Linked DNA regions of Homo sapiens. The protein of the gene in region 3 purifies or fractionates together with the protein of the main gene of each other region. This does not show direct contact. Each region holds a gene or a part of one and is shown on either strand. Other genes may lie near its edges. The genes, in order: GSTCD, SYAP1 and MAP7D3.

The links.
Region 1: the proteins of MAP7D3 (region 3) and GSTCD fractionate together in Homo sapiens (co-fractionation; one large-scale study listed by BioGRID). This does not show direct contact.
Region 2: the proteins of MAP7D3 (region 3) and SYAP1 purify together in Homo sapiens (co-immunoprecipitation; one large-scale study listed by IntAct). This does not show direct contact.

What each region holds. Positions count from the first base shown.
Region 1 is NC_000004.12:105,718,748-105,722,399, reverse strand, and holds part of GSTCD (glutathione S-transferase C-terminal domain-containing protein), read right to left. Parts: intron 3,341-3,652; coding exon 2,873-3,340; intron 1-2,872.
Region 2 is NC_000023.11:16,754,099-16,757,750, reverse strand, and holds part of SYAP1 (synapse-associated protein 1), read right to left. Parts: intron 2,807-3,652; coding exon 2,658-2,806; intron 1,089-2,657; coding exon 1,030-1,088; intron 590-1,029; coding exon 442-589; intron 1-441.
Region 3 is NC_000023.11:136,216,171-136,220,409, forward strand, and holds the end of MAP7D3 (MAP7 domain-containing protein 3), read right to left. Parts: intron 3,502-4,239; coding exon 3,423-3,501; intron 3,326-3,422; coding exon 3,260-3,325; 3' UTR 3,228-3,259; intron 2,324-3,227; 3' UTR 644-2,323; downstream 1-643. UniProt on the Homo sapiens protein: Promotes the assembly and stability of microtubules.

The DNA.
Region 1 (3,652 bases), on a different chromosome or scaffold from region 3:
AAGCTCTTGAGGACCTAATGAATAGGAATAGACACAGAAAATACAAATTTACCACTAAATAAGTGGCATCAACCATTTTTGCAATATGCCAGCAAAAAGTGAGGTTCCCAACTTTATGCCGATGGGAACACAGGAAGAGGTATTTAGTTTTGCTAAAAAATCAATTTCTAAAAGAGGAATGATTTTACCTAAGCTAATAAAGATGTCTGTGTGTGTGTGTGTATGTGTGTATTTAAACTCAATTCAAAGCATTAGAAGTTAAAATGTAGAAAATTAAATCATAAGTGGTCAAATTACAAGATTTTATAAAATGATAAAATGCAACTTTCTGTCTTATAGGCGTACAATAATGTTTTAAATATTTCTGTCAAAGTGTACTTGCTTACTAGTAGCAACTGAAAAATAATATACAATCTTCTAGTATTGGAACAGTAGGATTTTGCCCTAGTATAGCTATTCATTGCTATTTCTCCCATAATGTTGATACGCTATCTACTAGAAAATTCTAGCAAATAAATTGAATGGGGGGAAACATGAGTGTACATATTAATTTATTCCTTTTAAATCTATTTCTAAGACTTTTCAGAGGAGAGGGTATCGTCAGGCCCCTTTCCTTATGAGGTGCTGAGCCATCAGGGGTTAACTTTGTAAAGTAATAAAGTATTTTCTGAAAAGGAAGAGCTTGCAGCAGGTTTATATATAATACCTTAGCATTTCCATGTTTGTCTCTGACAAATTAAAAAAAAACAAAAAAAACACCTCATCGATTCTACTTGTTATTGTTTTCCATCTTTGGTTTTATTCTGTTTAGCAGAACTGGGTATTTTCCCTAGTTCTTCTAATTTTGACCCTTAGTAATTCAAACCTTGATTTAGCAAAATTGACTCTTACTTTTATGTCCTTGACTTTATTCCTGCGACTAAATATTCTGTCCCTAGATTCAGTTTTATGTTTCTGGTAACTTGACCTTGATTACGGATGTTGAACTTGATCCTGATTCTGATCATTTGGATGGCCACTCCATTCACCTCAATGTATGTTAATGCAAGCAAAAAGGCTTGCCAACATAACCACTATATGAATTAAAATGACTACTTTATTACCCAAGATGATTTAAAGAGAAAAATATAACAAATATCAAGGGTTTATCAAAGAAGGATGAATTCTGGAAAACATGAGGTGGGCGGATCACAAGGTCAGGAGTTCGAAAGCAGCCTGGCCAACATGGTGAAACCCCATCTCTACTTAAAAAATACAAAAATTAGCCAGGCATGGTGGCGTGCACCTATAATCCCAGCTACTTGGGAGGCTGAGGCAGGAGAATTGCTTCAACCCAGGAAGCGGAGGTTGCAGTGAGCTGCGATTACACCACTGCACACAGCCTAGGTGACAGAGCGAGACTCCATCTCAAAAAAAAAAGAAAAAAAAATCCAGTAAAAATACAAAGGAACGAAGGAAAATATTTTGAGAATTAGTTTATGTATTCAAATAATTTTAATAAATTTCTTCAATAAAGGAATGGATATGCCACTTTCATTCAATTCTGGTGAAACTGGAAACACAGTTATCCAAAGAAGTCAAGAAGACAGAAGACCAAGTACTTCATAATGTATCAAATGACTGCTCTAATGACGGAACTTGGTAATAGAAGAGAGGGATCATGGAGAAGAGAACCTAGGAATCATCTGACTAGGAAAAAATTTAAAAATCAATGTCTTCTTCCCACTCAACTCCATGGACTCTGTGAAGACATATGACATCTGGCATTTAAAATAGCAATCAACATCTAAACAATTCCTGGATCTCTCTCTTTTTATATTGTTTTGGTTGCCAAATTTGGTTCAATTTTGAGGAAAAGAGAAATGTTCTTTAAGAAAATGACAATTGATGAATACTGCCGAGTTTACTTGTGAAGCAAAGCCTTCAAATACATAGATTTTCGATAGCAGTCTCTTCTGTCCATAGAGATACCTGAATTGTTGGTGATATATAATGAGAATGAAATCTAATATCTGATTCCTTAGTAGGGAAAAGGGGGAAATGCTTCCAAGAAAAAAACCCAAACAAAAGCAAAAAGCAATGCAGCTCTTGAAAACCAATTGGAAGGCTGCAGAGAGCTAAGCTTCCTATGTTCACTCTGGTATTATTTTCACCCTGTTCTTTTTTCCTCCACAGAGGGAATGTGTGTGTGCACACGTGTGTGCGTGTGTGAGTGTGTGTATGTAAGACAGACAGAGAGAGAGAGAGAGAGATCTTCCTACTCAGAAAACGTTCTATCTATTCTCCCCCAGCACATAATAACAGAGCCAGCTACTTTACTCTCAGAGAGAACAGAGAAAAGCACACAGGTCAGAATAAAATATTTTCAGTTTGATAATACCTAACATAAGATTAATTTAAGTGACTAACAATTCATTATAAAATTTAGCTGACAAGATTTTTAGTTTTTTTTTTTTTAACTGCACCCTCTAATAGTAGACGTCCAACGGAGTATCCATTGCACCACAGAGCCGACTTGGACCTTCTACTATTAGAAAGTAATCACAACAGAAACTTGAAATTAATAATAACAATTGTTAACATTTTAGCAACTTCACATTAAAAGTCATAGTAATTACTAACTTTGATTGAGAGCTTACTATGTGCCAAGCACTGTTCTCCATACTTCACACAAACTTTAATTTGTTCCTTACATTTTTCCTTTTAGATAGGTACTATTATTATCACCATTTTACAGATAAGAAAATGGAGAAAGATATTAATAACTTTCCTAGCAGCATATTGACAATAAAAAGTAAAACAGAAATTCAAACCTAGGCAATTTCATAGACTGAAACTCATAGTAATGTGTACAGTCCAGATGAAACCTTACCAAGAAATGATGGATACAGGGCAAGAGCACAATATCTGCCAGAGTGAAGTAAAGCCCTTCTGCAAACACATGCTCCAGAGGTGGAAGGTCGGAGGCTTTTGCTTTTCTGATGTGAGAAGGCTCTCTGTTGGTAGTAGCTGGTTCTTCCTGTACTGTGAGCTTTGAGAATGCCACTTTCAGTTCCAGACTCTTGGATGAAGAATCCAACCCTTCAGATGTTTCCTGTGTGTGGACCTTGCTCTTTGCCTTTCCCTTAGTAAGGGGAGGCCCAACTCCATCAGCCTTCTGTTGCTTGAGCTTCTGCCTGCGGAGTTTATCATCATTATGCACTCTAACAGGCTCACTAAGCTTTTTCTCTAGCTGTAGTATTTCTACAGGTATAGTTGGGGGCTGGTCAGAAGATTCTCTGAGAAAATTCTCAATAGCCAAAGGGATGGTGAGTTCACATAGCCTGGTCCACTGACTAACCTACAAAACAAAAACAAAACAAGAAATGAAAAGATTTTTTAATTTCAATATAACTTTAGAAAAAATAACTGTCTTATTGGGAAATAAGTTTTGAGCTCAATCATCCCTGGGCTAGGCTTTTATGTTGTATCAGGAGACACATCACAGTGCTTCAGAAGTAAAAACATTAAGCAAAAGAAGTTTAGCATTCCTGTATTCCCCTTACTAAATAAATCATTACTTCCCAAAGCCTTTACAATATACCTCCCCTGTCCTACCCTCCTCCTAGCCCCCACAATAAGCAGGGCTTCCAAAGCATTGCTATTTGAGCTC
Region 2 (3,652 bases), about 120 Mb from region 3:
CTTATTATTTATTTATTTATTTATTTTTGAGGCGGAGTCTCGCTCTGTCACCCAGGCTGGAGTGCAGTGACGCGATCTCGGCTCACTGCAAGCTCCGCCTCCCAGGTTCATGCCATTCTCCTGCCTCAGCCTTCCGAATAGCTGGGACTACAGGCACCCACCACCAGGCCCGGCTAATTTTTTTTTGTATTTTTAGTAGAGACGGGGTTTCACCGTGTTAGCCAGGATGGTCTCGATCTCCTGACCTCGTGATCTGCCCGCCTCGGCCTCCCAAAGTGCTAGGATTACAAGCGTGAGCCATTGCCTCTGACAAGAATCAATTTTGATGCAAAATTTACAACACATTTTTGTGCACTGGCTTCAGAATAACAATTTTCTACAATTAGCTTTGGAATTAGGGAGACGAATAGTTTCTTTGCTTTGATTTGTTTTGTTTTTTACCTTCCAGTACGGCTGTCTCCTCTTGCTTTTTGTCAAGCACTAGTTGCTCCATTTCTTTCCTTAGATCTTCCTGATTTAGGTTACAGGCATCGAAGGCATCACTGACAAACTCAGAAACACCTGGGCTAGTAGAAATTTCTTCCTCATCCTGAAATGCAACAAATGAGCTCTTGAAATGGTTTGCTAAGCGACATTTGTGTTATTCTGGTTTGCTATTGTCTCACAATTTAATGCCGTGCTATTTTTATTTCTTTTCTCTGCGAGCTGTAAGACAATGAGCACTGCTCTCCAACCTTCTAACTTGCAGTTGCTTGGTAACTACATGAGTTACCACCTGAGGCTATTATTCTCCTTCACAGTTTGAATCACTCCAACCCTTCTCTCCAATCCCTGATGAACACATCTAGAATTACATATGCCAGTAAATCGTCCTCAAGTCTCAGCCCTAGTTCCTTGACTATTCAAGTACCAGATGCTGCTTCTTCCAAACCCATATTCATACATAGTTTTAAATGGTATCAGAAAGAGTTAACACAGTTACTTTATTTCCAGATATCAACTACTAGGTACAATGTAAAACTGGATTACCTCTTGAGTTTTAAGCTGAGATTTGATTACAACGGGTGGCGTTTTGGGCCGTACTGCCTCTAAGAAGTGAGAATAAGAGAGACAATAATTGCTTGGTTCAGTTCTGAATACATATTATAATCACAGTAAAATATCCACAAGTATTATGATACTAAATAATTTTCAGAAATGAATTTTTATGTTATGCTTTCAGCTTTTCTTAAGTTATAAGAAACAGCCATGGTGAAACCATCTCAACCTCTTACTTTGGGGATATTTTTATCTATCTATCTACCTATCCATTTATTTATTTTTAGACATGGGGTGTCACTATGTTGCCCAGGCTGGACTCGAACTTCTGGGCTCAAGTGATCCTCCTGCCTCAGCCTCCTGGGGATATTTTTAACATGTCATCATATTCAATACATATCCTTACATAAAATTTCCAGCAGGAAATAATTTTTAACTACAGTGTTAGCAAAATTCATTGAAGAATAGTTCTGTACTTTTTTAGAATAATGAGAATTAAGCTATTTATCAAGTTTGCCTGCTGATAAGAGTGCTAGAAAAAGGCAGTCTTTATGGAATACTGTCATAAATCCATTTTGTTAAACAAGGCAGTATTTGGCAAAATGGCATTTTCCAACAAAATTAACATAAATGCTAAAGAATAACAGACAATTGGGATGCATGTTAACACTGATATACAAAATGACAAATTTTCCTGTGTAGAGCAACTTCACTCCATTTCCCTGACACTAACAGCAGTGTCAGATCCTGTCCTAGTATTCTGTATAACCTGTACCTCAGGACATGCTGTTTTGCTTAATCATTTAAAATTCCGTGAATTAAATCACCCCGCTTCTTGTGGGATAAATGTCCAGTTGTAATGAGTACCTACTATACACAGCAGGTACTCACTAAGAATTTAAACTATGACACAAAATGTGTTTCTTATTTTAATTATTACAGATTTCAAACAGCTGCCCTTATTATAAAACACATTCCCACAACCAGGGGTAAGTTAGTGTCACAATGAGTCCAATGTTCATCAGTGCCTAGCTCAGAACTAGATAGATCCTTGTAACTTGGGAGTGGAATGGAGCTTTGTTCTGCTCTACAGACTACACACACTGGAGAAACATCAGGTTGAAACAAACAAAAAGGAGGCGGACTGAATCAGGGTAGAGGACAGAAGTATAAAGAATCACATGGTTAAGGGCCAAAAATGAGAGGGGGGGAAGATGACGGATGTTTGAGAGAGAAATAAAACGAAAAAAAAACTCGCCAGGCACAGTGGCTCATGCCTGTAAGTCCCAGCTACTTGGGAAGCTGAGGCAGGAGGATCGCTTGAGTCTAGGAGTTTGAGGACAGCCTGGGCAACATAGTGAGACCCGTGTCTAAAAAAAAAAACAAAAACGAAAACAAGGAATGAGAAAGGAGATAAGCAAAGTAAAGGAAAGCTTGGGGAAGACATGTGTGAGCTGGGTCAGAGAGAAGGCAGTAAGAGAAAAATGAAGATTTCCTCTGGGAAGAAAAGAATTTTTCCCTAAGGCAATGACATTTCTGGTACGTATAAGAGGTCAAGCTCATTTGAGTCTCTAAGAACAACTTTTTCTGTAGAGTGCTGTCTTCTACCCAGAATATACCTGCCAGCGGCAAATCTTGCTCTCTGCCATTGCTCTTCTCCTCCTTCCCTGCGGCCTGCTGTTGGGCAGCCAGGGCCGTGAGCTGGGCTGACTGCTTAATCAGGGAGACGCGGTAAAAGTAGTTCCTCCAGAACACTTCTTCCTTCACACTTTTAAAGAAAGGCAAATTAGAACAGTGGAAAAAGGCAAAATTGAAAATCAATAAAAAGCAGACAGACAAGAACACATTTGAGAACGCACACAGACAAGTGCACGCAGGGGTTATTTGTTGTAAAGGGGACTGGAGTAGATGATTTGCAAGAGCACTTTCAAAGCTGAGTGAGGTTCAGAGGGGGTTCATATTGGCTTTAACAATTTTTTTTTTTTGACACGGAGTCTTGCTCTGTTGCCCAGGTTGGAGTGCAGTGGTGTGATCTCAGCTGACTGCAACCTCCGCCTCCTGGGTTCCAGCAATTCTCTTGCCTCAGCCTCCCGAGTTGCTGGGATTATAGGTGCCCGCCACCATGCACAGCTAATTTTTGTATTTTTAGTAGAGACGGGGTTTCACAATGTTGGCCTGGCTGGTCTCAAACTCCTGACCTCATGATCTGCCCGCCTCGGCCTCCCAAAGTGCTGGGATTACAGGCGTGAGCCACCGCACCCAGCCCATATTCACTTTAGAATTGAAAGCTAACAACAGGATAAACCTAACAGCTATCTTCCCCGTAGCAGCAAAATACAAGTTACAGAATACCAATGAAACCTCAGCATTTCTTGGTATCTTAATGATACCAATACTGCTCTCGGTAGAAGAAAACATGGCATTGTTGTGAAACTAGCATAATCAACCTGGGAAACCAGAAGCAGAGCCAGGACTCCACCAATCACTTGCTGTTTCTCAAGAGGATTAAATGCCTTCCAGCAGTGAGAAGCAAGCATTGTGGCTGTTGTTCCTTATGAAAGAGAATGTTTGGCAGCTTGCTAATAACTAGTAACCAGTAAGAGTTAGCAATGGG
Region 3 (4,239 bases):
CCATCACAGGGAAGAGTAACAAGCACTGAAATAGTTGCAGGAAGACAACCAGAGCTTGAAAACTCACATCTAGGCTGGGTGTGGTGGCTCATGCCTGTAATCCCAGCACTTTTGGAGGCTGAGGCAGGAAGATCACTTGAGGCCAGGAGTGCAAGACCAGCCTAGGCAACATAGCAAGACCCTATCTCTAAAAAAAAAAAAAAAAAAAAAAGAAAAAAAGAGAAGAAGAAAGAAGAAGAAGAAGAAAGAAGAAAGAAGAAAGAAGACGAAGAGAAAAAAAAAAAAGCCAGGTATGGTGCCATGACTGTGGTCCCAGCTACTCAGGAGGCTAAGGTGGGAGGATTGCATGAACCTCAGAGTTTGAGGCTGCAGTGAGCTATGATCGTGCCACTGTACTCCAGCCTTGGCCACAGAGTGAGACCTTGTCTCTAAAACAAACAAACAAACAAAAAAACTCACATCTTTCTATTCCAGAAGTGGAACTCTGCCAAATCACCAACTGGATGAAGAGGGAAATCAGGGGATTTGATCCCTGTTCATTCAATTTGCTGGCTGCCTGTGTTCATAGCTCAGCCAACAATTGGTGTTGCCTTTATACCACCACCAGTACACTTTTTTTAGTATTATAATGAAAAAACCCTTGTTTTATCTCCAAAGTTTATTTTATATAGCACACATTTATATGGAACTGTAACAGTGTTTCAACACAAGACATTTGTGCAGAAAAATAACAGGAACTCTTTTGTTAGGATGATTGTCTCTGTTTTATACATGAAAGAGCTAGTATATAAAAATAGTTTTTAAACCAAAGGTAACCTTCTCTATTCTATATCAAAAGTACAATACTCTGAGTGGCAAAGAACCAGGGAATCTGAAAGAATTACCTCCTTTTACTAATCCAAGACTGGCAGCCAAAAGGAACACTGGCCTGCTTCAGACTATTTACGATTCAACACTGAAAACTCATTAGGAGAATTAATCTGCATTTGAATTTTATGGAATCATATACTGTGTGTGCATACATACGTGTATGTACATCTGTGTGCATTTCTGTGTGCCCATCACACGAACTCACTGGCAGCCAGTGGCTAGAGAAAGGCAAGCAAATTTTGGTTGTATCTCAAGCCTGAGTGTATACTCAACGACAGAACTGGAGAGTACAGGCAGAAAAGTACTTTAAACATTTAGAGGAATTAAACATACCCCACGGGACAACAGCCATATACTCCTTTATGTACACAATAAAAATAATATATGTTTCTGTAGATAAACACCAATATGTCCTTCAAAAGGAAACACTGACAAGAGCATGAAAGGTGCTGACTGTTCCAAGATGGGGCTTTACAGGACTCCCAGCATTTCAGGTTATTAGTGCCTGTGTACTCACTGGCACAGATGGGTAGAGTTAAAAATATACATATATCACAGTAAAATACAATTTGCTGGATTTTGCAACCTTTGGTATTTTTATATTAGAAACAATCTGACAGCTCTTGTGAGCGATCCTGCGGCCCTTGCATAATCTATTCTGTTCTCTACAAGATCAACTGTGAGTTTTTAGCTGTCAAAATTGTCACTGGTACACAGAAAAAGCATTACTTGGCTGGGTGCAGTGGCTCACACCTGTAATCCCAACACTTTGGGAGGCCAAGACGGGTGGATCTCTTGAGGCCAGGATTTCGAGACTAGCCTGGTGAACATGGTAAAACCCTATCTCTACTAAAATACAAAAAAATTAGCCAGGTGTGGTGGCACATGCCTGTAATCCCAGCTACTGGGGAGGCTGAGACAGGAGAATTGCTTGAGATGAGGAGGCGGAGGTTGCAGTGAGCCGAGATTGTGCCACTGCACTGCAGCCTGGGCGACAGGGCAAGACTCCGTCTCAAAAAAAAAAAAAAGAAAAAGAAAAAGAAAAAGCATTACTTTAAGATTTCAAATATATACTGAAAGAGAATTAGTTCTGCAATCAGATTCTTCTAGAAACTCCACAGTTACAGTTTCAGGAAAGCATCCTTGATGCACTCACTCCAGCAAACACATTGGTGGGACAACACAAGAATGAGAGACAATGATGATTTTCCAAAGAAAACAAAAACCACTCTTTACTTAGAACTCTTGCTTAGACACAAGAGAATAAGATGACTTTAACATCTGAGATATACATCAAAGTGGCCTTTTGACAGTTTCTTTCAATTTTTCGGTGTCACTTCCTTTACCAGGTTCAAGTCAGAAGCAGAAAAATTTGAGGACTGATGGGCCCAGGAGTTGAGTTATCCAGAGTGGAAGATGTATTCATCTCCCAGGCTGAGTAAGGTTTACATATCTGACCAGAGGGAAAAGTAAAAGAAAGATCAGTAGAGAAGATGCTAGTCTCACAGCAACTTGTCCCTGGCCTCCCTTCAGGGCACACGCCCAGGACTCTCAGCAGCCCCTCTGGAGTTGCTGACACACTGGTCCTATAAATGTCCTTCACTTCCCCAGTCCCCAACCAGGCCCAAGGTGCTTCTCAATTTCAAAGAGAACTTCTCAAGGAAAGAAAAACAAGAGGCTTCTGGTTTTGGAAACAGGTTGAGGCTTATTCCGAAGACCTCCCTAATCTTCTGCCCTAAGCAACTGTCTGTGTGCTTGCCAAGCAACCAGCAGACCAGGAGCTCAGAGGAGTCTGAGATGCAAGCTTGAAAAGATCATTTTTTTTTTTGAGACAGAGTCTTGTTCTGTCACCCAGGCTAGAGTGCAGTGGCAGGATCTCGGCTCACTGCAACCTCCGCCTCCTGGGTTCAAGTGATTCTCCTGCCTCAGCCTCCAAAGTAGCCGGGATTACAGGCATGCATTACCACACCCGGCTAATTTTTGTATTTTTAGTAGAGACAGGGTTTCACCATGTTGGCCAGGCTGGTCTCAAACTCCTGACCTCAAGTGATCTGCCCGCCTTGGCCTCCCAAAGTGCTGGGATTACAGGCGTAAGCCACTGCACCTGGCCAGAACTTATTTTTTATATCCGGCCTGAAATGTGGTACATAAAAATTAGAATCAAGTCATCTACTCTCTACTTTCTCAAAACCAACTTAATGGAAGACTCTCACATCATTCCTGCAGACCCACAACTGTCTTCTCCTTCTCTTCCAAAGCTATATGGTGCAAAGACTGCCCTGGAATGGCTAGAAGGAGGGGAGCGGGTTCAGGGTCAATTGCCTTTCAAGAAAAAGGTAGATGAGATGAGGACTTACCCAAATGAGGAGAAACAGGTTTGCTTCTTCTCTTATTGTCTAAAGGTGTCTGAGGACTTTGGCAAGATGTCATGGAATCCTTCAGATTTTGTTTGTGCCTGTCAGGAGAAAAATGTGACAAAGATAGTTCTGTGTGACTTAAACAATGTTGGTGATCTTGTCACAGATACGCTGCTGCTCATAATTCATACTAACAGAGGATCTGCTGGTGGTGTTGGTTTCATCCGCCTTTCTGGTTTTCGTTGTGTGACTGGTCATTCTTTTGGAAGATGGTCTGGAAAGAGACAGTTTGGTTAGAATCCCAATTATTCCCAAACCAAGGCTCTGGCCTAAAAGAAGCTTTGTCCTTTAATTAACTTCTAAGAAATGCCTTGGAATTAAAAAACATTTCAGAATCATAGAACAGGATGACTGAAAGGAACCCTAGAGATCACAGGACACACTGATTTTCAAACTGTATTCCAGAAAGCCCTAGGTCCCACGGAAGCACCAGGAGTAGGAGCAGCTAAGCACGCAGGACTCCAGAAACCATGCCCCTCCCTTACATTGGTCAAGGATGCGGCCAGTGAGGTGTAGTAACAGAATTGGTACAGGTCCTCTAGCTCTAATGCTCCTTCCACATCATCACACCTCTCAGCAGACTCCTGTTCCTGTGGGCCTTGCAGGTGAATGTCTTCTCAGGCAATTGCCCATGTAGCATTCCTTTCCATGAATCAGTTCCTGCTCTCCTGACCTAACTTTTGACCTTGTTTCCTTACATTGACAATGAGCATATTATGGCCGGGTGTGGTGGCTTACGCCTGTAATCCCAGCACTTTGGGAGGCCGAGGTGGGCAGATCACTTGAGCCAAGGAGGTTCAAGACCAGCCTGGCCAACATGGTGAAACCTCAACTCTTAAAAAAAAAATGAAAAATAAAAAAATAATAAAATGAGGATATTACTGTCACACTCACAGTTGTGATGATAATTGAAATAGGTAATATAAAATGCCTGGTATATAGCAATCACTCA